7 linked regions of the Homo sapiens genome follow. The protein of the gene in region 1 interacts with the protein of each later gene in a pairwise test. Each region holds a gene or a part of one and is shown on either strand. Other genes may lie near its edges.

Region 1 (4,169 bases):
GCGGTGGCTCATGCCTGTAATCCCAGCACTTTGGGAGGCTGACGCGGGTGGATCACCTGAGATGGGGAGTTTGAGACCAGCCTGACCAACATAGAGAAACCCCATCTATACTAAAAATACAAAATTAGCTGGGCGTGGCGGCGTGCGCCTGTAATCCCAGCTACTCAAGAGGCTGAAGCAGGAGAACTGCTTGAAACCGGGAGGCGGCGGAGGCTGCGGTGAGCCAAGATTGCACCATTGCACCCCAGCCTGGGCAACAAGAGCAAAACTCCGTCTCAAAAAAAAAAAAAAAAGGGTGGGGGGATGGGGGAGGAACTACAGGGGACTGGGATGGGAGGGGATTTGCACTGGGGAGGCACACAAACACTGTGATCTTGGACACTGTGATTACTGTCCCCAAAGAGTAGAATTTATTCCAAAGGATAGTGAGAAAGTAGTCATCACTGACAGGTGTGCATGTTGCTGTAGCTGCCAGCCATCAGGGCTAATCTCATGGAGGAAGGAGGGAAGCGGGCTGACCAAGGCTGTGGTCAGGACTGCAGCAGAGCTCTGTCCAACCAACAGATACATCCTTCTAAGTCTCCTCACAAGGCCAGGGGCTGGAAACACTGCCTAGCCATCCGCGTGCTAAAGAGGAGGGCAGGTTCCCTGGTTAGCTGTGCCCCTGACCAGTAAGGCTCTGTAACCACTGGTGGCCTGAGTTATCTTACTGTCTTTCCCCTCCAGGATCCCAACCACTGCTCAGCTGTAGAGGTGGGAACGGGGACTGGCATACAACACCCTGTGAGTATCTGTGAGACAAGTGGTCAACACAGAGAAGTTTCCCATCGGGAGTTTTCTGTATCCCCATCTGTACATGAGGTTGTATAAGGATCAGAAAGGAGAACATCTAATCCAGAAAAGTTTAAAATTTAGCAATCTGAACGGCTAGCAGAGACGGCAGAGGACCCGACCCCACACCTCCACCCAGACTCACGCAAATGGCATTGATGTCAGACTCGTGGCCAGTGAAGGTCTGCCGGCACATGCCTTCTCGCACATCCCAGAGTTTGGCTGAAGCATCACAAGCACCAGAGACGAACAGTCTGGTGTCAGGAGCAAGAGAAAGGCTCATGACATCTCCAGTGTGTCCGGTAAACGTGGTCGTCTGCTGGCCGGTCTCGATGTCCCACAGGGCACTGGAGCAGGAGCGAATGACAAGGGGACATCAGCCTTAACTTCTTGGGTGGCTAGTCATGTGACAGACAATCTGTCCTTCAAACCACCCAGGGCCACAGTGAGCCTCTGCACTGTTACTTTAAAAACGTAAATTGTTTAAAGACAAATTTAAATGTAATACAACTTTGGAAGGGAAACAAAGCAAAGCAAGCAAAATTATACAGAGATGAGCACAGGGCCTGGGCTTCAGAATGACGGGATCGCTACCTCAACTCAAATGCCAGCAAACAGGGAGCTGGGGGCACTTTTCAAGCAGCACCACTGAGGCTGTGCCCCCTCTTTGGTCATGGATGGGCATGGAAGGGGTGGCAGGAAGCTACGTGGAGGCCCTGGATGGCGGAGGGGACGCGACTCTATCTGTGGCTGCTCCCTCTGTGCCCTCCCTTGGCCTCCCCTCCACAGGGTCTCAGAAAAGGCAGGCAGGAGAAGGCCAATGCCAGGTAAACAAATGGCTCACAGCAATTCTGAGGTCCTCCTGCCCTTTCCTGGAATCACAAACAGGAGAGCAGCTGAGTTCTCAGTGATCACACCTGGTATTTTTTTTTTTTTTTTGAGACCGAATTTCACTCTTGTTGCCCAGGCTGGAGTGCAATGGCGCGATCTTGGCTCACCACAACCTCCGCCTCCCGAGTTCAAGCGATTCTCCTGCCTCAGCCTCTCCAGTAGCTGGGATTACAGGCATGCGCCACCATGCCCGGCTAATTTTGTTTGTATTTTTAGTAGAGACGGGGTTTCTCCATATTGGTCAGACTGGTCTCGAACTCCTGACCTCAGGTGATCCGCCCGCCTCGGCCTCCCAAAGTGCTGGGATTACAGGCATGAGCCACCGCGCCCGGCCATACCTGGTATTCTATCACATTTCTGCTTAACAAGCTGTCAAAAGGTGAGACGCTGACAGAGCCCTGCACAGAGCAGAAGCCTGGCTCAGGTGTAAGGACAGCTGTGAGGGCCACACGCCCACCAACATACTATTCTCCTGTGCCTCGACCCATGGAAGGCAACACCAGAGAGCACTGTCCGTTCATGTCAGCCTCAGAGGAAAGCCTGGCTGGGCCTGGCAATGCAAATCCAATCAGCCAATCTCAACAGACACTGCACAGGGAGCCTCCTCTCTAGGGCCTGAGGGACTGACTGCAGAAGGGAAGCAAGATACGTAAAAGAGTCTGAAAAAAATGATTAATGAACAGAAGCACTTTAAAAATATCTTCTAATAAATAAAGTCTTCTCAAGATTGACAATCTAGGTGACAAATCTTTTGTAAATCTATGAAATTTATACAACGAGGACACCTTATAATACCACAGATGCTTTGCTGACAAGTTGGTTAAGGGCCCATGTCTCGGTGAACCCCACCAACTGCGTGACTAGGGGTCTGTGCCCTGGGCTGGGCACAGCTCCTGCCACCAAATCATGCCTCAGAAGACCAGAAAAACCCACATGGCCAGCTGAAGTCTAAAATGACTCTCATAAAATAACTATCTGGACATTTAATTTAGTACTTTGATGCCACAAATGAAAAAATTCTAGCATTTAAGTGGGCTTCCGTTTACCTGTAAGGTGAAAACACTAAAAATGAAGTCTGATGGAATCACTTGAATTGTGACGTCTGTTATTTTTAGTCTGTGCTCATTGTTCACAATGACATGATGCTATCAGAAAGGGACAATCAAAACCCACCCTACTCCCACCTATCATCACCTAAGGAGGTACAAATATATAGAGGGGAAAAAAAAGAAGAGCAGGTACTTTGAGCCTGATTGTAGTTAAAATATCTATGTTGGCCAGGCATGGGGGCTCACACCTGTAATCCCAGCACTTTCAGAGGCTGACGCAGGCAGATCACGAGGTCAACGGATAAGAGACCATCCTGGCCAACGTGGTGAAATCCCGTCTCTACTGAAAATACAAAAATTAGCTGGGTGTGGTGGCGCACACCTGTAGTTCCCAGCTACTCGGGAGGCTGAGAGGGGAGAATTGCTTGAATCTGGGAGGCAGAGGTTGCAATGAGCCGAGATCACGCCACTCCACTCTAGCCTGGAGACAGAGAGAGACTCTATCTCAAAAAAAAAAAAAAAAAGAAAAAAATGTGTATTTTAGTTCTCAGCTGCTGAAAATTAAACTTTGTAAATTTATTAGAAGTATAATGAGGCTAGGCACGGAGGCTCACGCCTGTAATCCCAGCACTTTGGGAGGCCGAGGTGGGCAGGTCACCTGAGGTCAGGAGTTCAGGACCAGCCTGGCCAATGTGGTGAAACCTGGTCTCTACTAAAAATACAAAAATTAGTCAGGCGTGGTGGCGGGCACCTGTAATCCCAGCTATTCAGGAGGATGAGGCAGGAGAATCATTTAAACCCGGCAGGCAGATGTCGCAGAGCCAAGATTGAGCCATTGTACTCCAGCCTGGGTGACAAGAACAAAACTCCATCTCAAAAAAAAAAAAAGTATAATGAATTCACACATTGCTACTATGTGTTTTAAATCTTAAGGCCACTTAAATTACAGATGGCCTAATATTATGTCAAGAACCTTATTTCCTCCATGTTCACAGAGGAATGTGCCAGGGGCTGTGGGTTCTCAAGGCACTGCCTGCCCCGGGTCAGGTACTTACCACGTGGTGTCTCCAGAGCTGGTGACGATCTGATTGTCATCCAGGAATCGGCAGCAGGACAGGTAACCTGGCAAAGAACAGGCCTAAGTGATGAGCTGAATCCAGCAGGCCTTGCACCCAGCCTCATACATAGAGAAACACATTGGCCCGGTGGAAGCTCTACGTCTAAGGTAAGACCAGCACCATGCTAGTGACCTTTTATTCCCATCTGTGCACACAGCAGAAGGTCCACACGCACTGCTGGTGAGGGTGAGAGCCTGGCCAGGCAGGACAGCACGTCCCACAGAGACCCACAGCTCCGTGATGGGGGCAGAAGCAGAAACCACACCCATGAAACATACAC
Region 2 (4,374 bases), on another chromosome or scaffold:
ACTTTTTCTGTTAATGAGGTGTGTTGGCATTGATTGATTTTCTAATGCTGAACTACCTTTGTATTCCTGGGATAAATCCCACTTGGCCATGGTGTATAATCCATTCAGTATGCTGTTGAATCTGTTCGCTAGTATTTTGCTGAGGATTTTTGGTCTATCAACTACTCACACTACCCTACTTGAGGCTACACTGTTGGCCATTCATTCCTTTGATAGTTGTTATTGTTGACTCCTTTCTTCCCAAACTACTCTTGGTGTTTCTGAGGCAGTATGCGCTCCTGTTTTTTTCTCTCATTTCTAGGCATTTCTGTGCCTACACTGTAGATTTTTCCTCTCTTCATCCTTTAAGTGTTAGTATATCTCAGGGATCCTTATGAGCCTTTGAGTGATCCCATCCACATCCAAACTTTTATTTTTATTTTTTGTAGAGATGGAGTCTTGCTATGTTGCCCAGGCTTGCTTCAAACTAGTGGCCTCAAGCAATCCTCCTGCCTCAGCCTGCCAGAGTGCTAGGATTATAGGGGTGAGCCACCTTGCCAGTTCCACACCCAAACTTTTTTTTTTTTTTGAGATGGAGTTTTGCCCTGTCGCCCAGGGTGGAGTGCAATGGTGTGATCTTGGCTCACTGCAACCTCCACCTCCCGGGGTCCAAATGATTCTCCTGCCTCAGCCTTTTGAGTAGCTGGGATTACAGGCACCTGATACCATGCCCAGCTAATTTTTGTATTTTTAGTAGAGACAGGGTTCACCATGTTGGCCAGGGTGGTCTCGAACTCCTGACCTTGTGATCTGCCTGCCTCAGCTTCCTAAAGTGCTGGGATTACAGGCATGAGCCACCGTGCCCGGCCCCAAACTTTTATATATTAGTAACTCCCAAGTCACTGTCTCTGGATAAGGCCACTTCTCTGATCTACATGTAGAGCCACCCTCTGAACAGCTCCATTGCATTGTCCCACGGGTATCCCAACACCCAACAGAACTCACAAGTCTTTCATGTTTGGGCCTCTGTTTACCTGTCCAGAGACTATCAAAGTTGTTCAGAGCCATTTCAATCTTAAGGTAAGAATGCTTTGCATTCAGTTCAAATCTGGGTTATGGCTGGGCACAGTGGCTCATGCCTGCAATCCCAGGACTTTGGAAGGCCAAGGAGAGAGGACTGCTTGAGACCAGGACTTTGAGACCATCCTGGACAACATAGCAAGGCCTCATCTGTATAAAAAATTTTAAACATTAGCCAGGCATGGTGGCTGGCTCTCACCTGTAGTCCCAGCTGCTCTGGAAGCTAAGGGGAGGATTGCCTGCCCCAGAGGTTGAGGCTGCAGTGAGCTATGATGGCACCATTGCACTCCACCCTGGGCAATAGAGCAAGACCCTGTGTCAAAATAAATACAAACAAATAATAAAAATAAAAACAAGTCCGAGTTATGCTGGCTTCTAGCTCTGTGTACTAGAGCGCATTCCTTAGCTTCTTGTTTCTCTGTTGCCTCATTTGTAAAGTGGGAATGATAATACTTGGTATTAGGATTAATGTGATCCATATCAAGTTCTAAATGAACTGCAGCTCTTTAGTGATAGCATTGGTCAGACCCGAGGGGATACTGTGCAAAGGGGTGGAAAGTAATACCAAGCTGACCATTGTTTCTGCCGACCCTGACTTTTGTGCTTTCACCCAGTTTCTGGTGGAGAACCTGATTGACAGAAACCAGATTAAAACTGGAGCCTTACTCTAATAACCCTACTGGGTTTAATCTGCAGATTTATCTTTATAGCAAAATCTTTTTATTGTTTTAATAATTAAGATCCCTTTGGCTGGTGATCCAAATTGGATGTTATTCTGCTGTATAGAAAACAGTATTTATTAATGTGTTTTTATACTTGATGCTTGTCTTAAGGTGATCATCCACTGATTTTCACTTAAATAATTGTGCTTTTCTATTCCCTCTGTCTCTGTGCTTAAAATCTTGGCTTTACCATTCATGAAAAAGAATGGAAAATATATCCATTAAGAATCAGATAAGAATTCGTTAAAAGAGAAAGCTTGGAAATCTCTATATTTAAGTACTTTTTAACGGTGCTGTGAAATGATTAATTGCTTTGTTTTAAATATTGCTAAGACACCATAAATTAAATATTTACACATCCTTTTTATATTTAAAAATAGATTCAACAATTATTAAAGCTATTAATACCTGAACTCCTAATCAAAATCAAAGAAATTTTTAGTTTGAATAAGGCAATGGGATGGAAAATTTGCTGTGTTTTTAAGGCTCCCTTTAAGTTTAAAAACTAGGTGCCTAATTTGTGACTTTTTTGCTAAATTCACTTTTAAAATGACTTAAAAATCACTTACGCTTTATTTTTCTTTCAAATCTTTTTCTCCTAATCTTTTAAAATAAGGAAAGGTGCCTCCGTGTTGGGTATTATAATTGTATTCAAGTTTTTGCAACTCCATTCAAAAAAGTACGTATTTTGTAAGCTCACCTGGACAGGTGGACTTGATGAAGGGGATGGCTCTGAGATGCCGGTTTTCAGCCACAGGCCCTTCAGCGCTTAAACAGTTAGAGACAGGGTACGTTTCTGGCCGAAACCCGGGAGCCGAGTCCTCAGGAAGCCGCAGGGGGCCTCGAGGGAGCGGACTGGGCCGACTGGCTCTAGAGGTCCGGCAGCACAGGCTCCGCCCGCAGGGGCGGTGCCCGAGCCGGCTTCCCTAGAGCCCGCCCTCCGCGTCCTGCACCCCCGCGGCCTCCGCGGCCTCCGCGGCAACTGCTCCCGGTGATGCAAACCCTCACTTCCCGCATCCACTTCCTCACAGAGCCCGCGGAGCCGGCGGGAGCCGCGCGCGCCGCCCAGCCGTGCGTCATGGGCAACATCCAGAAGAAGCTGACTGGCAAAGCCGAAGGCGGCAAGCGGCCGGCAAGGGGCGCGCCGCAGCGGGGCCAGACCCCGGAGGCCGGCGCGGACAAGCGGAGCCCACGGCGGGCCTCTGCGGCGGCGGCGGCGGGCGGCGGCGCCACCGGGCATCCGGGCGGCGGGCAGGGCGCGGAGAACCCTGCCGGCCTGAAGAGCCAGGGCAACGAGCTGTTCCGAAGCGGGCAGTTCGCCGAGGCGGCCGGCAAGTACTCGGCGGCAATCGCGCTCCTGGAGCCAGCAGGTAGGTGCGCCGCGCCCCGCCGCTTCCTGGGCCCCTCGCGCTGCGGTTCACCCGACCTCCGGGGCCCCCGTGGGAGAGGCGCTGCCGCCTCCTGAATGACAGGCGCCGGCATCGCTGCATTCCTCCCAGGTGACTAAGAGCGCCGTGCCACCTGACCTCAGTGAGCAGCACCTGGGAATGCCGGCATGTTCCCGGCCAGGCACGTTTGCCTCCGTCCCCGCCGGGTTTTCCCTTGGTGGCTGTTGCGGGTAGCAGCTCCGTGGAGTTCTGCATGATCAGTCTGCAGGACTGCAGTGCCACCCCACCGGAGACCTCGGCCGTCTTGTAATTCTGGTGAACTGTGATCTTGCTAATGGATTTTAACTGTATTTAATTAAATGTGATTTTTAGGAAGTGAAATTGCAGATGATCTAAGTATCTTATATTCAAATAGAGCAGCATGTTACCTAAAAGAAGGAAACTGCAGTGGCTGCATTCAAGATTGTAACAGGTAAACTGCACGTTTTCAGGTTTGTCAAGAGATTGTTATAATTTCATTATGGTGAATGCAATATCCAAGATCCTAAATTTTCTGCCTAAGGATCTAATTTCTTAAGAGCTTTATGGTATGTTAATTGATTGATGCATAAAAATCATAAATTATCTTACGTATATGAAGAGAGTTATAGAAGATTGTGCAAACTTTTTTCATTTCCACTGCTACCGCCCTAATTCGTGCTCTTTTCATATCACTCCTAGACTACTGGAGAAGCCTGATAACTAATTCCAATCCACTGCGGCATCAGAATAACTTTCCTGAAACATTATTTTGTTCAGATTGTTTCCAACAGGCCTTTAATGGCTCAGTATTGGCTTCGAAATAACTGTAAACTTCTCTGTCACTACACTGCCTCCAAGCAAGTTTCTCCTTCCGTTTGGTCTACTGGACCACTTGCTTACTCTCGCCCACCTTGTTCTCTGAGCCCTTGCCCATGTTGCCCCTAATGGTGGTAATGCCCTTTGCACATCTTATCTTCTGAAGTTCTTGCTCAGCTGCCCCTTCTCTCTACCTTCTTGAGTGCCCTAGACTTCCTGGTCATCTGCAGGCCTGTAACACCTACACTGACACTCGGTCACACCTCTAAGTCCTGTTATCCACTGAAGGGGGTTTAAACACATCGAGGTTAGGAACCATGTCTTTTCTTTTTTAATAGACAAATAATCACTGTACATATTTATGGGGT
Region 3 (4,015 bases), on another chromosome or scaffold:
AGATCTGGGAAGCAACGTTATTGTTTCATATAGTGACTCAGAGTTTTCCTCTTTCTCTCCAGGTCCAGCAAGGGAGAGTATACAATAATGGTCAAGAGAAGGGGGTCTTGGCTGGGCGCGGTGGCTCACCCCTATAATCCCAGCACTTTGGGAGGCCAAAGTGGGAGGATCGCTTGAGCCCAGGAGTTCAAGATCAGCCTGGCCAACATGGCGAAACCTCGTCTCTACAAAAGATAGAAAAATTAGCCGGGGTGATGGTGAGTGCCTATAATCCCAGCTACTCGGGAGGCTGAGATATGAGAATTGCTTGAACCTGGGAGGCGAAGGTTGCAGTGAGCTGAGATCATGCCACTGCACTCCAGCCTGGGTAACAGAGAACAACTGTTTCAAAAAATAAAAAAAGATCCCAGGCACTGTGGCTCATGCCTGTAATCCCAGCACTTTGGGAGGCTGAGACAGGCAGATCACCTGAGGTTGAGGGTTCGAGACTAGCCTCGCCAACATGGTGAAACCCCATCTCTACTAAAAATACAAAAATTAGGCAGGCGTGGTGGCGGGCACCTGTAATCCCAGCTACTCAGCGGGCTGAGGCAGGAGAATCACTTGAACCCAGAAGACGGAGGTTGCAGTGAGCCGAGATCACACCACTGCACTCCAGCTTAGGCGACAAGAGTGAGACTCCATCTCAAAAAAAAAAAAAAGAGAGAGAGAGAGACAAGGGGGTCTGGAGCTTACCAGACTCCAACTCTGATCTGCTGCTTCCTTACTGCTTTCTCAGTGTGGCCTTAGGGAAGTCACTCAACCTCTTTGAGTATTAGTTTCCCCAGCTGCAAATGGGTATTAAAAAAACCTACCACATGCAATTATTGTGGGTACTAAGAAAATAATGTCTATAAAATATTATAATATACTACCTGGCACATAATGAACACTTAATACACTTATTATTATCACTAATAATGCTATTGTTATTATTATCACTGCAGGGTTATCAGGAAGGCCTTCCTGGTGCCTAGCCCCAGTGATACTAAGAGTAGATCCCAGCCCAGTGCAACCTCAGCCCCTCTCACCTGCCACAGAAGAGCACACTCTCCAAGTCACTTGTCCTGGACTCAGGTAAGATAGTGTTTGAGCCTCCTAGTTCTTCATCAGCTGAAAATCTTCAGATAAAGCAGATGGCCTGGAAACCAAAATCTCTGATGCCTAAGCTGATCATAGGCTCAAAGTTCTAAGCCCATCACCCGCTTGAGCCTTCAAGCCCTCACTACAGCAGAGCAGAGAGACAGACATTCTCCCCACAAAAACAAACGCGAAAACAGAAGCCACCTTTTCACCACCTTGCCTTGCGTTAGCCTCACACTTTTGGTGACCTCACTAGCTTAGAGCCCGCAGCGCTTCTATTTCTCCACCTCCACCCTGCAGCCCCACTTACCCCGCTTCGCCTGCTTTCTCCTCCTTCCCTTCCCACCTCTGAGCATGCTCTGAGGCTGTCCTTCCTCCTGAGGCAAGTCCTAGACCGGCCCCTAACCTCCTTAACCAAGATGCTTTGTGTTGCCCATTGGATCCCCACAGTTTCACCTTACGAAGTTCTCCTAGCTCACTCTTCATCCACTCATTCAATAAAAATGTCCTTGCTCACCAAGCTGTGCCACTTAGTACTTGGGGCGTGGCCACCTCTAATGCCTCTGTTCAAGCTTCTTTGCTGCCATGCCTCCCTCTGAGCCCTGAATGTGGGTTCCTGAGCACAGAACCCACATCCTGGTTTTTTTCTTGCTGTCCCCCCAGGACCACCCAAGGGCTATGCCATTTAACAGACATTGAGCTCCTGCTCTGGTTGACACCCATCCAATGACAAGGGACCCGCTGGAGGAGCAAAAGTTAAGGGACCAATATGGTCAATGGGAGGTCCTCTTATTCTCCTGTCTCTAGGATGACAGGCTTGGTGGTGGGAGGGGCAGAGAGGAGGCCCGCCGTCCATCCTAACTTCCGTGCTCCAGGACCCAGTCCAACTCTCAGCTGGGAGCTCTAAGAATTTGAAATCAGAACAGGATCCTGGAGGTTGTCTGGTACAACTGTCCTGTTAATGCGTGAACCACAGCCCATACCTCCTAGGCAGGCTCAGTGCTCTGTCCACCGCTGCTTCCTAAAACCGCAAGTTGATCTGAAATTTGAACCTGGTGCTTCTCAAATCCAAGTCCTTCCTGTTGTCTAATCTGAGTCCCTCACATTACGCTTGGTCAATTTCATCTTGTCCTGCCTTCATCTGCACAGAGCGTGTAGGGCAGATCTTCATCACACACAACCCTTCGCAGGCTTGCTAACACCCCTCTGGCAACCTCTCTGGTCATGTCTTCCCGGTGTCCAACCCTGACCCCTCTTGCTGCCGCATCGGCTGTTTTCTATTTTTGCTGTGCTGCTGCCCCACAGTCCTCTGGTATGACGGATCTCCATATCCTATCCACCCTCCACTCCCCTGTCCCTTGGTGACTCATCCCTGAGCTTCCCAAGGAAGCCCCCACCCTCTGCCCTTTCCTCCCGCCTTCCATGAGTGGAAAATCCACCTCCGCCCCCTATAGCAGGCCAGCCCCCTTCCTCCCCAGTCTCCGACCCCATCCCCCAGCCGACCAGTTTCCTCTCCAGGACCAGGGAGCAATCACAGCTGCCCCGACCTTGGCTTCCTCTGCTGGGTGGGATTGGGGGCTGGGCCCCCAAATGGGCCCCTGGCTTCCCCCTTCCTCTGGGCAGGGGACAGAGAGACACAGGCTCGGGGAGCAGGACTGACTTCCTCTTGTCCCGGAATGAGCATGCCTGCCCTTTGCAAGCAGGTTTGGGTCTCACGCAGAGGAAACCAAAAGCAATAAGAGGGAGGGAAGGCAGAGCAACCAATCAAGGGCAGGGTGAGACTCAAAACGAGCGGGCTCCCTGGGGAGCCAGACAGAGGCTGGGGGTGATGGCGGAGCTACAGCAGCTGCAGGAGTTTGAGATCCCCACTGGCCGGGAGGCTCTGAGGGGCAACCACAGTGCCCTGCTGCGGGTCGCTGACTACTGCGAGGACAACTATGTGCAGGTAGGTAGAGCGGGCGGAAGCCTGACACCCCAGCCCCCGGAGGGGGGACCCTGAGCCCTGCCCCAAGTGGGGCCCTGGGACCCATCCTGACAGTGCTTGTCCTGGGCCTTGGCTGAGAAATCCTCCCATTCCAGGCTTCGGCTTCATCCCAGACCCCAATACTTAACCCTGACCCCATACTACCCAAGCCCCCACTGTGCCCCTTCTGTCTCTCAGAGCCTCAGAGATGCCTGGGACAGACAGTGCGATTCCATCCTGTTCTCAGGTGTCACCTCAGGTTCATCCTTCTGAGTTCCCACGGGTCAATCCAGAGACCCAAAGCCTCCGTCCTCACACAGATGCTGGCGATCATTCTATTTCCAGGCCGGCTCTGGGTGAGGCTTCAGAAGAACTTCCCAAACAGCACAGTGAACCTGAGATGGACAAGGGAAAGGGGCTCTTTCCCTGAGTTTGGGAAAGGGAGAGTGGGGATAAGGCAGAGTAGGCTGGGCTAAAGAGAGGGGATCTCATGCAGAGGCAGGGGGATGGCCCACATAACTGCTGGGAGCAGGCTTCTAGCAACAGATAGGGAGGTGGCATTGTAGAACAGGTTTTAAATTGTGTGGTTGTCCTGGGGCTGAGAACATAGATTCCTGGATTCAGGGAGGAGAGGCAAGGCAACTGAGCCATGATGGAAATCACTTCTGTTATTTCATTAATCTGTACAACTACCTTGTGAGACATGTATTATAATTCCTATTTTACAGATGTGGAAACAGTAGCTCAGGGAGGTGAGGTGACTTGTCTAAGGCCACACAGCTCCAAACAGCAGAGCCAGGCATTCCTTTTTTTTCGCTCTTGTTGTCCAGGCTGGAGTGCAATGGCTCGATCTTGGCTCACTACAACCTCCGCCTTCCGGGTTCAAGAAATTCTCCTGCCTCAGCCTCCTGAGTAGCTGGAATTACAGGC
Region 4 (4,374 bases), about 230 Mb from region 1:
AAAAACACAGTACGATAATCTCACAGGACCACTGTCACATCATATATGTGATCCGTCATTGGCCAAAATGTCATTATGCAGTACATGAGTGTAATTGAAGAGAGTGTCATGTTTTTCCCTGCCCAGCTGTGGGACTGCCATAGACAACAATACTTACACTAAAGAAAAAGTGTGTCCAGATTCTACCATTTGAGATAAGATAGGAATTTAATTTGAGCTATGGACAGAAGGGAGAGCTTCATTTGCTTTTGACTCAAACTCTCTAAATTGGAGCTATTTCTCTAATGATGACAATGGTTAATTTCTGGGTACTTGCTAGATGCCAGGCCCTGTCTGAAGCACTTTGCACATATGATCACATTTAGTTTAATTAACTGGAGAAGAGAAACACCGCAGGAAGGTAGACCCTCTTGCAAAACCCAGGTGAAAGATAACAAGGATCTGAGCCAGGGCAGCGGCCATGGTGATGAGAGACAGATTAGCAGTAGGACTGAGAGGGCTTGGAGGCCAGCCAGATGTGGAACAAGGGAGAGGGAGGTGTGGAAGATGGTTGTGGTTTCTGGCCTAAGAAACTGGATAGATTCTATGCATTCAAATCAACCAATATTGGAGGCCCTTCAGAACGGGTTTCGGGGAAAGACAAGGGGCACTGGTTTAGGCAATGACTAACTGGAAGACTCCACACATCACCCAGAATACAAGCCTGCATCTGTGCTCTGACCTCACTCCCTCTCTGCATAATAAATCAGAGGGCTGGGCTGAGGTCCCTGAGGGCTGAAACAGGGCAAACAGGGACAGGGCTAGAAACATCAGACTATAGATAAAGAACAGATGGGAGATGCTCTTTCGGGGAATGAGCATGAACTTCTGCAGATTACTCCTCCCAAATGCCTGATGAGTGGGTGCTCCACTTCCCTACCCACATGAACATATCCACACACCACACGCAGAAACACATGAGTGCACACACACAAATACACTCGCACATGCATGCACACACACACATGAACACACAGCACAAACATGCACACACACACACGCACACACAGGCACACCTACATGCACACACATACACACACAAACACATATGCACACACACACCAGGATTAAAATACAGTCTGGCAACAGATGAGCCACAGAGCATCTCTACCTGGGCTTCTCTGGGAACTTTTGTGGGTAGAGGAACCCTACCTACTTCCGGCTATACCCACCTCTCAGATAACTGGATGGACAGCATCATCATAAGGCTGGGCCTTAGATGTCTCCAGTTTGTACTTATTTCCAAAGCAGCTACATTCTCATTTGAGCCTTAGAACAATCCTATGAGTTGGTGTTATCTCTAAATACGGAAACTGAGAGCCAAAGAGGTTCAATGACCAGAAGCGAAGTCTCCCGACCCTGTGGAAGGCAGCAGCCACTGCAGCAGGATGGAAGGGAATGAGTGAAGCGGATGAAGAGCAGGATCGCCCTGATAGAGGGCATCCCCATTTTTGTATCTCTCAAGTCCTTCCAAACATCACCCAGCTCAATCTCCCCTGCCCCCAGTTTCCTGTCTCAAAGCAGAGCTGGGCTGCATGAACCACGTCTCACCTAAGCCGGGGCCTGCAGAGGAGCCTGCGGCCCAATGGAGAGCAAATCTGAGCACCTAAGTGACAGAGAAGACAAAAAGGAGAGTAGATCTGTGTCCAATTCAAAGAGACAGAAGTGCAGCAACATCCTGTGCAGCCGGCTCCAAAAGGAGCTGCTGCAGCTTCCAGGAGGAAGTCAGTTGAGCCCAGAACCCCTCGTTTCCTGCCGTCTGCCCAGTGCTAATCTGAGCTCACGACAATCTCGGGCCACAGAGGTGGAAGAGACACTGACCTCCATCTGCCTCCGGTTTCTCAGCAGGCAGTCCCGCAGCACTGGCTCCCATTTCCTGAGCAGGGTGTCCCAAGAGTGGGCATCCCCTGAGCCGCTGCTCCCATCACCACCACAGCCAGCCAGTGAGGGATCCAGAGAACTGGAGGAGCCAGGGTCCATGTCTGGTAAAGAATGCATGTCACGCTCTGGCCTGGAGCTGTTCCTTGCGGCCTGGGCCAAGTCTGCAGAGACCCGTGTAGCCAAGAGACTGAAGGGCCGAGAGAGACATCGCGGGTCCTCGTGAGGCCCGTCCAAGCTGGCAGCTTTGGCTCCCATCTCCTGGGGGCTCTGGCAATGGGACTCAGCCTCTCTGGATGGTGGGCAGCCTTCTGCTTCTCCACGTTCCCCGGCAGAGCCAAGCGAGAGCCGAATAAAGCTAAAGCTTGAGGTAAAGGCACTGTGAGAGCCAGGAGGGGTTGGGGGGACCTCAGGGCCACAGCCAGGGCTGCAGCTGTTGCTACTCAACTCTGCTGATGGCAGAGAGCCTGCTGCCCGGACACGCCTTGCTCCATCGCTGCAGGCTGCCTCCCAGCTGGCGTCCAGGGTCTCAGAACTATCCATGGCTGCAAACTCTTGCTGCCACCCAGCACTCCCAGGGCCACACGGCCAGCTAAGCCTGTCAGGCAATCTGGTGCCACCTCTGAGCTGAATCCCAAAGTGCGCCGAGGTTCCTCTCACAGAGGTCACAGTAGGGGCTGCTGCACTCTTGGAAACAGGGCTCCGGACCAAGAGGCCTCTCGAGTCAAGGCCACACTGTCTGGCCCTGGACTCCGAGTGGTGGGACTCCTCGCCAGACACCCCTCCTGGGAACCGGAACAGTGTGCCCACTGCTGGGGAAAGGAACCCGATCCCAGGCCCTGTCGAGCTTCTCATGTAGCCCGGCCTCCGTGCCAGCCGCCGCCTCCGAAAGCACGCTGCAGGTGGTAAGCAATCCCGGCTGCCTGGGAAGAAAAGAAAAAACAGCACCATAAACATGCAGATCTTACTGGCCCAGCTGGAACTGCATCTGGAGAACATCCCTAGGTTTAAAGGTCATCTCTCAGTACACCTGTCAAAGATAGATGCTGGCTCAGTGGTCCCAGGGCCAATCCATTATGTAAATCCTGACAATCCTCAGGAAGTATTTGCCTGGAACATGTAGAAATCAACACAGCATCTCAGCTCCTCGGTTTAGCAGAGCAGCTGGCACTGCTGTACGCTATGCCAACAGGTCAGCATGAACACAACCTTGGCAGCTCCTGAACCCTCCAACATCTTGCCTGTTGGTCTTTTATGGCACCTCAGTACTCTCATCCTGGAGTGGGCCTGGAAAGCAAATGACGTGAAAGAGGAATGCCAGAGCATGCCTCTAAATGAGATCCAACTATTTACTCTAGCTATTCGTTGAACATGTGAATGTTCACTAGCGGAGCTATCCATGTCCCTGCAAGACTGATCTGTTGCTGCAGACCATGGATAGCTGGCTGTGCCGCAATGTATGGCCATCATCTCATCTCACTCAGTGGATGACAGGAGGCCTGCTTGATGTGTTCTCCAAACCAGCATTGCATTCCCTTCCCAGCTATGCTATAGGAATAGGAACAATAACAAATGCTGACTCCTCATTGACTGGTTCAAACCCTGATTGTACCACTTGCTGGTTGTGTGACCTTCCACAAGTTACTTAACCTCTCTGTGCCTCAGTTTCCCCATCAGTAAAGTGGTGATATTAACAGTAGCTCTCTCATAAGGTGGTTGTGAGCATTCAACTAAATGAGTTACTATTTGTAGACAGCTTAGAACAGTGCCTGGCACATATGATGATAAGAGTGATTAAAATGTTATTATTTTTAGATTGCATAGCACTTTGCTACTCATAATGTGTTTTAATTTACATTAATTTCATTCACTCCCGACCAAAACCATGTGAATCAATCCGACCCGAAACTATAGCTTTCCTTTTATATTAAAGGCAACTGAGATTCAGAGAACTTGACTTTCCAGAACCCCCTGCAAGTAGCCAAGTGACCAGGACAAAGTCTCTTGACTCTACTGGCCCACACAGAGCTCTCATCTCAGGACCCTGCCACATTGCAAATCAGGCATGAAAGTAAAACTAGGCAGCACTAGGCACAGCTGTAATCATACCATGGCCTATGGCGAGAAATGGAACAAACTTCACTCCAGGCCCACACATCCTGCTTTGCTTCCCAGAACAGACATGGGCTTGGAATCTTTGTCCTGTTAAGCCGAGATCACTAGGCATTAAGGATCCCACTGAGCTACGATCATGGCACATGCCATCTCCTAAAAGGGGTGGGGGTGGCATTGATAATCTCTGGGGAAATGAGCACAATGACCTCTAGCCCCCTATTTCCTGACTTGAGCATCTGAAGATAACAGAGCCCAAGACTTGCTCACACAGTGACTTGCTCTTGCCAATTGCGGGGAGCTCCAAAAGGGCTATTGCTGCCCGGGGTACAAAGAATTCCGGAA
Region 5 (4,374 bases), on another chromosome or scaffold:
GAAGGTGACTGCCCTTACCATCTCCTGGGCACCACAAGGGATGTGTGAGGACTGACGCACAAGGAACTCAGGGGCTTCCCACTCACGGTGCTCAGAAGACAGACCGGCTGGGCGGCTCCCCAGTCGCTCACCATGAGACACACCCTTTTCCAAACACTTTCCCTTCCATGAACTTTATATTTTGAAAGACTGCCCTTCCATCTAGGTCCACAGTCCTGATCCCCAGAACAAAGCTGTTCAATCAATACTTCCTTTCCCCACTTCATCTGGGTCAGAGGCTGTGTCACACAAAAGGCCAGGCCACAGGGCTCCCGCAAGGCAGCTCACGGGCATGGCCACCTCACAGGGCCTGCACTACGAAGGCCTGGGGAAGGTCCAGGTTCATCCATCTCCCTGGTCCAGGCTGAGTCCCCGGGTCCCAGCCAGCACCCATGCAAAGTAGGAACGTGACTGGTTCTAGTGCCTGAGCTCTCAATTCCAGTCTGACACCAAGAAACTGGTTAGTTACTTGTATTAATCTCTAAAGCTTTACCCCAGGAAACATGATTTCTCTTTTTTTTTTTTTTATTTGGAGACAGGGTCTTGCTACGTGGCCAGGCTGGAATGCAGTGGTGCAATCCATAGCTCAATGCAGCCACAAATTTCTGTGGTAAAGCAATCCTCCCGCATCAGCCACCACACCAGGCTAAGTTTTCTCATTTTTGTAGAGACTGGGGTCTTGCTATTTTGCCCAGGCCCAGAAACTTGATTTCAAATACAATACTAAAAACAGTCCCGGCCTCTCCGCCACCTCCTCTGAGGACCCCCGGTCACCACACACAAAGGCTGGAGACAGGCCCGCAGGACACGCACTCCATCATCGATGCCTCCTTGGTCTCCAGGATGTGGTCCGTCAGGATCCAGGGCATCGACATCTCAATGGGGAACTGGATCCTCCTGCCCATGGTCAGCTCCAGGAAGAACTCTCGGAACCACAGCTGCGAAAGGTCACAGCACTGCTGCAGCGTTTCTGGGAGGGTTCAAACAACTCCATGTTATCTCCCGCAAGCAAAAAAAAACCTTTAGCAGAGATGACACAAGGGCTGTGTGCTGGGTGCCTGCTCCTCCTCGCTCAGCCCCAAGCCATGCAGCATGGACATGAGTGGGGAGGGGTCACCGGGGCCTTGCACTAGGGACAGGACCAGCTGGGCATAGCTGCAGGTAAAGCCACCTCATCAACCCTGTGAGCCCTTCAGTGGGATCCAGGGGGAAAGTGTCTTTTTTTTTTTTTTGAGACAGAGTCTATCTCACTCTGTCACCCAGGCTGGAGGTGAGTGGCGCGATCATAGCTTACTGCAGCCTTCAACTCCTGGGCTCAAGCGATCCTCCTGCCTCAGCCTCCCAAGTAGCTGAGAACACAGGCACGTGCCACCAACTGATTTTGTATTTTTTATAGAGATGGGGGTCTCGCCATGTTGCCCAGGCTGGTCTCAAACTCCCGAATTCAAGTGATTCTCCTGCCTTGGCTTCCCAAAGTGTTAGGATTAACAGGTATGAGCCACTGTGTCTTACCTAAAAATGTTCTTCTCAAAAGGAGACATAAAAACAGGACTTCTGGCTGGGCACAGTGGCTCACGCCTGTAATCCTAGCACTTTGGGAGGCCGAGGCGGGTGGATCACAAGGTCAGGAGTTTGAGACCAGCCTGGCCAACATGGTAAAACCCCATCTCTACTAAAAATACAAAAATTAGCCAGGCGCAGTGGTGAGCACCTATAATCCCAGCTACTTGGGAGGCTGAGGGAGGAGAATCTCTTGAACCTGGGAGGCGGAGCTTGCAGTGAGCTGAGATCGCCCCACTGTACTCTAGCCTGGGTGACAGAGCAAGACTTCGTCTCAACAAAAAACAAAACAAAAAAACAGGACTTCTTCACTTTCACTTAGGATAAAAACCAATGTCCAGGCTGCAGCATTAGAGGCACACTCAGGGAGGTCTGTCTAACGCAAAAATGAGACAGATTAAAAGAGCCCACACTCGAACTCCATCCTTTCATGGAGTTAACAGCAAAAGTGGTACTATTTCCTCCAATACCTCGCAGCACCCCAGCCAAGACAGCAGGGATCCTGTTCTGAGCAAGAGGTGGACAACGGAGGACTTGATGAGAACACGGGACAGACACACGGAGGGCAGAGAGCGCACCCACCGGTGGCCGGTCAAGGTGGCCGGGTGTCACCCAGGATGGGCTTGCCTGGCACAGGGCACCCGCCACCTTCCCCCCACGTCATGGTCTGCAAGGGCCATTTCTAGTATTTATCAATGCCTGTGTCTCAACTCAGGCACCAGATTACATTCGCCTGTTTCCAACCCCGCATGGGTTGAAAAGATTTTCTGTTCATGTCTCAGGGCCAGCCCGGGCTCCTCAGTTTATACCCTTGTAGGGACCACGCCCTGTGGAGCGAGCTCAGGCCAGGGACGTACAGCCACCGCCACAGAGGGCAGGACGAGTCACCGTCTGGGTGCACCAAGGGACGGGGTAGGGGGTGGTCAGGCGGGCGGAAGCATTCTAGACGGTGTTAGTGGTGTTAGGACATGCCAGGCCGGATGCTGCTCAGCAGTATCTCTTACCACTGAAATTTATCAAGTGAGTGTAGAAGAATGACTCTCGATGAAATTTTTCTATGTCCAATATGGTGGGCCCCTCAAGGCTACTTCTCAAGGTTTTCTTGGAACCACTTTTGTCTGCAATGAGGGACTCTAGCATGGTTCTCACCATGTAAAGCTGGATTATCCAAGGAAACATTTGTGGGGGAGAAAATATACATGGTACATTAGTTATGCCAAACTCAAAAAGCCCATGAGAGAAGGACTGCTCCGCTACGCCCTGGTCGGGAGGGCCCCGCACCAGCTCCCCGAGGGGTCCGGGTGCCTGTCTACGCGGCCACGTTGCTGCTGCTTTGGGGAAAGAACAACTTGTAGCGGAGCAGTTCGCCTCCGTGCCATAAACGTCAAGAGAAACAAATGATGTCTTACCACCAAAGGTTAAAAGGGGTAGGTAGGTGCACGACTGCCTCAGAAACGTGTTAACCGCATGCAAGAGCCTCTCCATGCCCAGAGACTTGAGCTGCCTGAGCAGCTCGGCAGAGCCCAAGGACTCGGCCATGGTGCGCACCAGGTAGAGCTAGACACGGACAGACAGGAGGGAGAGGCAGGAGAGAGACGTTAGTCACTCGACACACACACCCCAGGCAGGGACACGGGACGCACGCAGAGGGAGGCAGGGAGGGTGGCTGGCACCACGCACAGGCCGAGGGCCGTCCCCCTGACCCTCCTGCAGAGCCAGCAGCGTGCATTGCTGGTGACTTTCCAGAAGAGTGGCAGAAGAGATTAAAAGCCTCCGGCAGAGATGAGGGAGAAGACCAGCCCCAGGACGGAGGACAGACGCAGCGGTGTGGATTAAACCGGGTGTGAAAGTCGTGAGAAGCACCTCGGGGAGGCCTGAACACACCAGGAGAGAGGACAGTGGGCAGCTTAGGACCATGACACACGCAAGCAGCACCTCACAGTTTCCCACGCCCCATCTACAGTCATTTGCAGACCCAACGTAAAAATTATACAGACATTCAAACACCCATCAAGAAACACAGAATGAATACAGACACGTGGACTTGTGCCCACATTTTTGGGATGGGAGTTGAAATGGAGTCAGACTCCTTTTTAGTGCACATGACACATCTGACAATCAAGGCACGTCTCCTCACGCTCCCAACTCACTTGGGTGGGAAACAGAGGAGCAGCAGAAACCACAGGCGCCACTTTCTCTGCCTGAGCAGGCAGCGAGGACCTCATTTAACCCGGGCCTCACCAGCCCCACCCGCTCACAGCTCAGGGTGGGTCCCCCCAGGGAGAGGGTGCAGGCGGGGCTCAAGGGACGAGAACCTGAGTGCTGGAGGGTCCCACGGCGCGGCGTGGTACTTTTATGTCGAAGCCGCTCTTGGGGTCCTTCTCGCCCCGCAAGGCTGGGTCATTGAAGGGCTCATGCCCCGTCTCCCAGTCACACACGGTCTTCCTGATGGCCTGCAGGACACTGAACACCCCACCAAGTGATCAGCAAGGCCCAGAGGCCGAGACCTCCAGCCTCACAATCACACCATCTCCTCACCCAACTACAAGGCTCTCAGAACAGCCCCCATGAAAATACAAATTACTCTGGGGGCCATGGAGGGATGTGGTAATGGACCAGCTCAACAGGAAAGTTAAAAAGGAGTCTGCCTTCTGGAGAGTATTACTACCCCCAGAAGACTGCCCTGAGCTCCAGTTCGCATCTGTTAGCCCAGGGCAGCAGTGAGGTGGCTCTGAGTCATGCTGTGGGCAGGGAGAGGGCAGAACACAGCCTCCG
Region 6 (4,374 bases), on another chromosome or scaffold:
ATCAAAGAGATGGAGGTTATTTGGTAATTGTATAATTTCAAGTTATTTCTGTTCTTTTGGTGTCCAATACTGCATGTTCTAAACTCCAACATGTGGAAAGATGATGTTGGGTCCGGTGGACATTAGATTTTCTAAATGAGATGCTTATGATTCTTGTGAATGTGGCTTTAGGAGCTAAGATACACAACTGCTAGTTTGGTGATTTCAAAAAAATTTTCTATACAGCTGGTAGTTTGGTGATTAAAAGAAAATTCCTCTCCCCACTAAATTATAAATTTATACTTCTATCTGGAAGAAGGATATACCACAGATGTCACTCGTGCAACATCTACACTTAGAGCAGAAAATGATGGCAGCATTTCAATAAAAGAAAATCTCTATTTGCCTCAATCATCTAGATAATTCTGAAAAACAGAGTCATCTGAATTCCCTAATTCCCTTCTTCACTGCCTTTTCTTCTGGGCAGTGCATTCTGTTCAGAATAGTTATTGTAGGCCAGTCTATGGTGCAAAACAGGGAGGAGTTTATTGCCTTCACCTCCTAGGAAGTTTTACACTGAGCTCAGGCAATCCAGCTACTTGGAAGATTGAAATAATTCATTACAAGAAATTTAACATTTCCTGCATAATTAATAATGACCTATTAAATAGATCCTTCTTTTCCCATACCATTATGCTTAAGATTCCACACATATCGTACTGTCAATCTTTATGCTTTTCTATGTTTCATGCATCCTTTTACCCAAACTGGTTCTCCTAATATCAACTGGTATTGTATGTGTAAATTTTTTTCTCATCAATCTAAGGTTACATCGTTGCTGAGACGCCTCTCATCAATGGCAATGTTTTAGAAGTAAAAAGGTACAATATAATACTATTATGATAATGTAGAATAGAAAATGTTTTTTAAAGTCTGTGAATCAGAACTCTATGAATGAGAAAAAATGAAAACAAAACTTATGGCCTCCAAAGAGTTTCTGTTAAGGACATTTTTGAAAGACAGAGAGAGGCAGGTCATCAGGGGAGAGAAAAAGAGAGAGAGAATGACAGAGAGAGGTACACTAGACTCTAAGACTATTATGAAGTCCATTATGAACTCAACTAGGAATGAACACAGTGACTGGAGTTGTAAAATGACCCCAGTGACTTTTATTTAAAAGAACGTTATTAAAATCACTCCAGCTTCATTGCCATTAACTGCTTCATAGTTCAATGGTACAGTTCATGCAGTTATATTTTACTCAACGTCAAAAGATTTTTCAAACTGCCATTTTCCTTTTAATTACAATTGCAAGCTGATAAAAATGTATTTTTATGTTTGTAAAAATAGGGTCATACAGAACTTACACTTCTGTTATTATTAATATAACTCACTTTGGGATATAGTTTGTTGTCTCATTTTCCCAATGGGTGATAACTCTTCTTTCACATATGTATTCGGATAGGCCTAACACTCAAAAGTACAGAACTCTCTAACACATTGGAAACCCAAAAGGTGAGTATGTGGCATCAGAACTCATTGTAACCTTTATAATGTTAAGAAAGCATTTTATTAATAAACAAGGTTGACCTTCAAAATCCAGCAAGTAGCCTAACTATTCAAATTTGATTAGTTTATAATGGATATTAGCCTAATAAGTTGACAATGAGTACAGCTATCTAGAGATTAAAAGGTGGTTTTTTTGCTATGGCAGGAATCATACATTTCTGCCTGGTTAGGTGCCAGGTTAGATCAGATAAAGAAAGCATGGAGATTAAATGGGAAAATATTTTATAAAAGTCTTTTGTTTCTATTAAAAAACCAAGTTAGGAGCTCATGTTAGTGTTTTAATTCAAGATAAGGATGATAAGTGTACATGAAGTATTACAGATAAACAGGACTCTCTGGCCTCTCCTGTGTTTATTTGGTAACGAATAGTAGATAATCTCTATGATGGGAAACGCTGAATGACACGTGATAATTTCATTCATTCAACAAGCAAATATTCCTTAACTATTAGGTGCTGACCATACAGAAATGACAGTGATATGATCCCAAATATATATTGCTTTTGTTGATTTAGCGCCCAATATTTTATGTTATTTGTGAGTTAAACACCAAAACTTAGTGAAATTACAGAACTTCTTAAGTGTAAAATAAAGCAGTGTGGTTAGGCAGGATTTTGTCATATAGGCACTATATGTAGAATAGTGGTTTCAGTAGATTTGTCTTCCTCTAAATTCACTCATGACTTGCAATGGATGGATTTTTTTCTTTGCTGAGCCTCGTCTGACAGCTGCACACGTTTCCTCTGGCTTCTCTCTTTTAATCAAGGGTTTTTTTGCAGGAGCCTTCATTCTCCACATCACAACTGGGTGCCGGGGCCCAGCAGGACTCTGGATTCGGATGATCTTGGTTGAGGCAATGTAAGACATTTTCACTGTTTGCACTACAGCATTCATTAAATTTTTGGCTGCTTGGATCAGGGATGTGACACTGTCCAACTGTAGGGAAAAAAGAGAAAAAAGAGCTATTATTCCAGGAGGTTTTGTTAATTATTGCCAAGCGTGGGCATGGTGGCATGTGCCCGTTGCCCCAGCTACTCAGGAGGCTGAGGAGGGAGGATCACTTGAGCCCAGGAGGCAAAGGTTGCAGTGAGCCAAGATGGCGTCACTGCACCGCAGCCTGGGTGACAGTGAAACCCCATATAAAAAAATAAATAAATAATAAAAATAAAAATAACTGAGCCTGATAGTCTATTAATGTCACAATAAGCTGCTCAATATTGTCTATGCCCAAACATAAATCAATAAGTTCTGCCTCATTTTTTTGTATCTAGATGGATAAGTGATTATGTTCAATTAACTCTTATGCTAATTATGTAATGTGTTTTGCAAATAACCCTAATACGCCAATTTAAATAGAATCCTGTTAAATATTATCCTGTATAAATCTTACTTTTATTATAGTGTCTCTTCTGTGCTTTGTGGTATTATATGGTTTCAGTTTAACAACGGTACAAATTGGACCAATTCTACAAATGTTTACGGATAAAGGACTTGCTCTTAAAAACATATCAATAGCCATTTACTACAAAAAGGTGGAGTTTAGCAACAATAAAATACATTTTCTGTTTCCTCATAAAATGTTAACATTTCGTCCATGTAAGTAGTTTGTATAGAATACCTGGATCTTTTCTCAAAAACACTAAATACCTATAAATCCTTGACAACTATGTCAATTTGGAATGTCTGCTAGCAAACCCTTGCCAAAACCCTATTGTAATTAGTGATAGCTAAGAGGAATATTCAAAAAGACATGGTACATATTCCTTCTCTTGCTTTTGGAAGTTTCTCACAGAGATTGTGTCAAAACACTAGAATGCTTTCTACTCGTAGGACACTAGTCTAACTCCCTATAGTTTGGATTCAAGACTGTTACCAGACATACGCCTTACATGAGGATTCTAAGCCTACGTGAACCTCACTTCCACTGGTGTGGATCTCACTTTCTTGCACCTGGTCTGTCACCTGGGAAAGCAGCTTCCCAATCACAGGGCAGTGTGAACTGCCATGCCAACTGCTTCTTCTGAGACTCCTGCTGAGAGAAAAACCTGATGCTGCTTGGAAAGATATATGGTCTGTCCAGTAACCTTTTTGGTAAATTGGTACCAAATGTAGCCTATGATCTTGAGTCTCAAGGTGTACCTGAATTCAAAGACCCCTGTTGGATGTTGGTCCTGCACAAAAGCAATTTTTGAAAGACAAATGTCAAGAGTTTGGTTCCAAGTGTCAGAAGAGCTTAAAATAATTGCTAATATCTATTATATGCTGTAGTATGCAGTTGACATAAAGTAACTCATAGCAACCCTATGAGGTAAGTACTCTTATTATCTTCATTTTATGGATGAAGAAACAAAGGAACTGGAAGGTCTGGTGACTTGCTCAAAGTAACACAGATATTAGATAGTAGGGCTGGAACTGGAACCAAGTAAGTCTGGTTCTACCTTGCGTTTTTTCTCATTACATAAACCTGCCTCCAAGAATATCCTACTTCCAATATGTGATTATTTTTCGATATCAAATAGTTAAATAAATTATACTAACCTTAACAGAGTGTCTAAAATTTTAAAGTTGACTAGCCAGCAACTCTGCTTTTAAGAAGCTTGCTCTTATTTTTGTAATGCATGTTGCTACCAGGAGCAATAGAGTATCTTATTTGCCAATGCATTTTGTTAGGATTGTGGTTTGAAAATTTATATACTAATTTCCAAGTTGTGTTTCTTTGGAAGAGCAAATAGAAGTACTCAGTCACCCTTATAGGCCCCAAACCATTTAAAGACATTTAGATTAAGACTATTTCATAACAAAACATTTTTAAATTTTAAAACCTGGG
Region 7 (4,374 bases), on another chromosome or scaffold:
ACACACCTTGTCTAGTACTTTCAGTAGAAAGATTGAGGCTGAAAGCATGCCAAGTGTTCCACCAGCCTGGAGTTGTGCAGGTTGTGGATAAAACACTATTTCATACTTGACCATACTTATGTGTAGTGGAAGGCAATCTCCCCTCATCCCCCAGGAATATCCTTTCCTGTCCGCTCTTCTTAACTGTGTCTTATCTACACTCAAAGACCCAGATCTCCGAATCCTGCCCATCCAGTTATCACACCCCTTATCTGGGCACTGGCAGCACTAATTGCCTGCACTGCTCACTTAGCAAGCCTTTCATGTTGGACTTAGACCAGAGCAATAGAAAGTAGACCAGAGCAATAGAAAAAGCTTGCCAGAACAGGCAACATTCTTATCATACTGTGAAACATACCTCAGACTGTGATAGAGGAAAAAAGAGAAGAATGGGTTTTCCAATGAAGGAAGACTATTTACAAAACAAGTGAGGATTAAAATGCATGGGAGTTTGAAGAACATAAGCTCCATTGACTTGCATGACCATCACCATTACAAAAGAGCTCCCACAATGAACTGAAATGTACATGTCATTTCTTAACACCCAAACTGCATGGTTGAATTAAATAAGATGGTTATTCTCTTCAAAGTGTAAATAGTGTAAAAAAAGATTCAATGATGTGTTTCCTGTGCTTGGAATGGAAGTACCCAAATTTGCTGCAAAGATACACTCTAATTCCTCAGAATAGATTGCCCACTTTTCCTCAACCCCCAAATACATATCACAATAACAGTTACAACAGAGATTATTTTTACAAACAGGAAATTGTCCACCCTCGTCAATTTTTCTAGACCTGCTTCCCCAATGAGACTGTGAAGACACTGAGACAAAACTATTTTCAAAGGCATTTTAAGTGTTTTGGGAGTAACGCTCTGTTAGTGAGCCCAATAGTGTTAGGTGAGCGAGGTAGAAGTCTCAGTTACTCTTTGGGGTTGTCATTCTTTTCCATGCTAGCAAGTAACAGTTTCTTACTCTTGCTTCATTGTTTGCAGCGCTACACCCTGAGCTTGGCACAGATCCTTATGGAAAATGAACTTGTCATCAGAGAATGCAGGAGGGACATATGTTTCATCCACCACCAAGCTGCTGAAGCATGGCCTCCTGTTGGCATATGAAGAAGTGCAGCACTGGCCAACACCAGGGTTTACTGGAGTCATTTCATGTCTGATACATAAGTGTCCGATAATAATGTCAGCCTGGTTAGGAGAATGAGAAAAAAAAGTAAGGAGATTGGGCATTAGTCACAAAGTTGGTTCAGTTTTTCAGAAAACTGCTGCAATAATTTCTAATGCCCAGCAATTTATAATTAATATTACAGGAAAATTTGCTATGTAGGATCATGTGACATTATATTGTAAATTCCAGGATTTACCCATTTGTTTGGGCTAAGCCTTAGCAAGTAGTAGCAGATGGTCCATATGTGATGTTGAGGATAGTCATTTAGCTATTTGTGTCAGCTATTTGAAACATGCTTCCAGTTACATACACACTTCTAAAGGACAAAAATGTCTCTGCCTTTATGTTTCCCATGTGTATTTAGTTGAACTTTCCATTTTTCTTTTGATAATCACTATCTGAAGGTAAGAATAGCACAAACTTACCCCTTTTATTCACATACATATACACATGTATACACTTGCAGCTAATATATCATCCTAATTGAAAAGAAGTAAGAGCAATTTTGTGGGTTTTTAAGACTTTCCTAATGTAGAATCTTGCTACCTTGCCTACTTAGGAGATATTTCTTAATCACCTAGTAATAACTTGTAATAAGAAATAATATGTTTTGTGTGCACTTTATCTGTCAGACTAGTGCTGTGTGAGTTATGCAGATTATCTTGTTTAAAACAGCTGTCGTATGAGGGTGGTATAATTTGTATTCTCAAATGTCAGATGAAAAAACTCAAGCTTAATGACATAAGTTGCTTTCCCACTGTGATACAACTAAAGAATAGTGAAAGTAGAATGCGGTTGTTGGCTGGTGGCCTCCGGAACATACACTCCTGAACCATTACACCATCCTGCATCCCTGCAGCCTCCCAGCATGGGAAATTCAACAAACAATTGAGGTGACATTTAATCACAAGAACTCTCCTTTTACTCTTAACCTTTGGGGAAAAAATGTATGACATGAAGACTAACAGCAAATAACTCCCCATTATGAAAAAGAGGAAAAAGGATAAAATAGACAATTTTGTTTGCAATTATGACTTTATAGGAAAAATATTTTTAATTCATCCTGTAATCTTATGTATGATACTAGTGACATTAGGAAGTAAAGAATATTGGCATTACTGACTCGAAAGTCATTTTACTATTCAGAACATAATACTTATCCTGTGCTGTACCCTATACCCTGCGAAAGGGAACCAATTATTCCTGATGTCATAATAATAATATCATGTTACAAAAGGTGAAAATATAAATATGGCTAAAATAGCATGACTAATTTTAATCAATCAAAGATAAAGCTTTTTTAAAACATCAAAGTAAGTATATGAACAAAAAGCAGAAATTATGATTTGAAGTTATGAATTATGAATTGTTATGAATTATGAGTTACATGTTGGTCGTTCTGTCTTTCCGATATATAAAGTTGGCTCAGATATTGTTGACTAAACTGGCTGAACTTCCACCAGCCACCCTGGAGGAATAGGAAGCATGGCCACATGCCAGCCATCCAGAGCTGGGTTCTCACACCCCTCCAACCGTGACTAATCAAACAAGCCTCCTAAGGCCATCTCTACATTGGTTTTTACCGTCTTCCCTAGAGGGGAATTATGAGGCTATTTCAAGTCAAACAGGGCAGAAATGAGATGGGACCAAACCAAGCAGACACTCACCGCTCCCTCGCCACAGGCCAATAGTTTGTCCTCACTGAGTTGGCAACAAGTGGCTGCTGTGGCTGCCATTTTTCTGGTGATGGCCATCAGCTCCGACGAGGTCAGCTGGGGGGCTTTCTTTGTGTAAGCAACGAGAAACCTGAAAGAAGCATTTTTTAACTAAGTCCTGCTGAGTCATTCATGAGTTTTTAGCCGCCTTGCTTCTTCTCACAGACTCTCTACTCTCATGCCAGAAGACATGAGGTCAGCTCGTTTGTTTCATCTACATGGTATTTGAACCAACTTTTGAGATGCATTTACTCTAACAACCACTCCCTGTACTCCTATTATAGAAGCATATCACAATGAAAAAGCAAACTCCAGGAGGAAGCCTGACTTGTATTCTCAACCTCGGAGCTTCATTGATTTTAACTGTGATCTTTTGGTGCTTTAACTCGGACAGACTATGACAGAATGGATATCTTTACTGCAAAAATTTGCACAGTATGGGGAACTTAAAGTCAATACCACAGATCAGACCTCACAGGTCATTCTTGTTGCTTCCAAAGGAGGAGAATGGGGAAGGCTACATTCTCTTTAATAATTTTAATTCACTAAAAATACTGTTTACAAAAACATACGCATTTTGTAAGTAATATTCTCCTAGTTTCTGGAAGAGGCCGCAGCTTCGCTTTGCCAATGCTTGGCTCTCCTGGATGTATTTCTGTAATTCTTCTTCCTGAAAATGAAGAATTATTACATATACATTTTTCTTTTCTTGGATGCATAACTTTGTATATAAAATTGATCAATATTATATACTATTATAAAACCAATCAGAGATGTTTAAATATTAAATATGGTAAAGTGTAAATTTTGATAATTACAGAAAATGGATTTTGGGGAGATTAAGTTTAACATTTTATAAATCACAAAATCATTTAATGGCAAAACTCAATCTTTGGATAAATGGTTACAGTTCTTTCTGTACCAAATTCTTGCCTTTCTGAAGTTATCCAAAAATGAATAATGAATACTACCTTTATTTGTGGATCAAAGGACTTTTGGTTAACATTTTTATTTCTACACTTGATCTTAGCCAAAAGGCTGAGAAGCAATTAACATTTTTGTTTCTAAAGCAAGCCACTAGCTGCTGACTGCTAGTTAATAACAGCTTAATATCTAGACAAATAGATATAACTGGCTAACAACTAGTTGAAAACTAGAGGCTTTCAAACAAACAGCATTTTTAACAGATGATATCAATCCAGTTTTTCATACTCCCCTAAAATTCTAGAGCAACTTACTCCTTTATCTTGGCATTCAAGAGGGTTTTCAGTCTGGAAACACTTCTCCAATAACTCCTGGTATCCTTTAGCAACTCTTAGAATTACTGAGACAGCAAGCTGAGGATGTCTTCTTGAATATTCATGAACAAAACTGAAATATGTGGAGAAAAATATTTCAAGTTATTGGAACTAAGAGACAAAAGGAGCCATCACTTCTCCAGTT

Evidence for each region.
Region 2: the proteins of GNB1 (region 1) and SPAG1 interact in a two-hybrid assay, tested with the Homo sapiens proteins (one large-scale study listed by BioGRID).
Region 3: the proteins of GNB1 (region 1) and GNGT2 interact in a two-hybrid assay, tested with the Homo sapiens proteins (one study listed by BioGRID).
Region 4: the proteins of GNB1 (region 1) and DISC1 interact in a two-hybrid assay, tested with the Homo sapiens proteins (2 studies listed by BioGRID and IntAct).
Region 5: the proteins of GNB1 (region 1) and CYFIP1 interact in a two-hybrid assay, tested with the Homo sapiens proteins (one large-scale study listed by BioGRID and IntAct).
Region 6: the proteins of GNB1 (region 1) and CTNNA3 interact in binary tests that used the Homo sapiens proteins (3 or more experiments, as listed by UniProt).
Region 7: the proteins of GNB1 (region 1) and AFP interact in a two-hybrid assay, tested with the Homo sapiens proteins (one large-scale study listed by BioGRID and IntAct).

What each region holds. Positions count from the first base shown.
Region 1 is NC_000001.11:1,789,419-1,793,587, forward strand, and holds part of GNB1 (guanine nucleotide-binding protein G(I)/G(S)/G(T) subunit beta-1), read right to left. Parts: intron 3,894-4,169; coding exon 3,827-3,893; intron 1,179-3,826; coding exon 977-1,178; intron 1-976. UniProt on the Homo sapiens protein: Guanine nucleotide-binding proteins (G proteins) are involved as a modulator or transducer in various transmembrane signaling systems.
Region 2 is NC_000008.11:100,210,278-100,214,651, forward strand, and holds part of SPAG1 (sperm-associated antigen 1), read left to right. Parts: intron 1-2,812; coding exon 2,813-3,151; intron 3,152-3,541; coding exon 3,542-3,641; intron 3,642-4,374. UniProt on the Homo sapiens protein: May play a role in the cytoplasmic assembly of the ciliary dynein arms. May play a role in fertilization. Binds GTP and has GTPase activity.
Region 3 is NC_000017.11:49,207,775-49,211,789, forward strand, and holds the start of GNGT2 (guanine nucleotide-binding protein G(I)/G(S)/G(O) subunit gamma-T2), read right to left. Parts: upstream 2,801-4,015; 5' UTR 2,670-2,800; intron 1,627-2,669; exon of another isoform or gene 1,433-1,626; intron 1,181-1,432; 5' UTR 1,071-1,180; intron 1-1,070. Other genes in the region: ABI3 (ABI gene family member 3), read left to right, coding at 2,951-3,067. UniProt on the Homo sapiens protein: Guanine nucleotide-binding proteins (G proteins) are involved as a modulator or transducer in various transmembrane signaling systems.
Region 4 is NC_000001.11:231,692,292-231,696,665, reverse strand, and holds part of DISC1 (disrupted in schizophrenia 1 protein), read right to left. Parts: intron 2,841-4,374; coding exon 1,861-2,840; intron 1-1,860. UniProt on the Homo sapiens protein: Involved in the regulation of multiple aspects of embryonic and adult neurogenesis. Required for neural progenitor proliferation in the ventrical/subventrical zone during embryonic brain development and in the adult dentate gyrus of the hippocampus.
Region 5 is NC_000015.10:22,913,874-22,918,247, forward strand, and holds part of CYFIP1 (cytoplasmic FMR1-interacting protein 1), read right to left. Parts: intron 4,063-4,374; coding exon 3,915-4,062; intron 3,441-3,914; exon of another isoform or gene 3,139-3,440; coding exon of another isoform or gene 2,758-3,138; coding exon 2,604-2,757; intron 1,010-2,603; coding exon 853-1,009; intron 1-852. UniProt on the Homo sapiens protein: Component of the CYFIP1-EIF4E-FMR1 complex which binds to the mRNA cap and mediates translational repression. In the CYFIP1-EIF4E-FMR1 complex this subunit is an adapter between EIF4E and FMR1.
Region 6 is NC_000010.11:65,918,135-65,922,508, forward strand, and holds part of CTNNA3 (catenin alpha-3), read right to left. Parts: intron 2,484-4,374; coding exon 2,196-2,483; 3' UTR 1-2,195. UniProt on the Homo sapiens protein: May be involved in formation of stretch-resistant cell-cell adhesion complexes.
Region 7 is NC_000004.12:73,449,263-73,453,636, reverse strand, and holds part of AFP (alpha-fetoprotein isoform 1 precursor), read right to left. Parts: intron 4,303-4,374; coding exon 4,170-4,302; intron 3,602-4,169; coding exon 3,504-3,601; intron 3,023-3,503; coding exon 2,884-3,022; intron 1,237-2,883; coding exon 1,013-1,236; intron 1-1,012. UniProt on the Homo sapiens protein: Binds copper, nickel, and fatty acids as well as, and bilirubin less well than, serum albumin. Only a small percentage (less than 2%) of the human AFP shows estrogen-binding properties.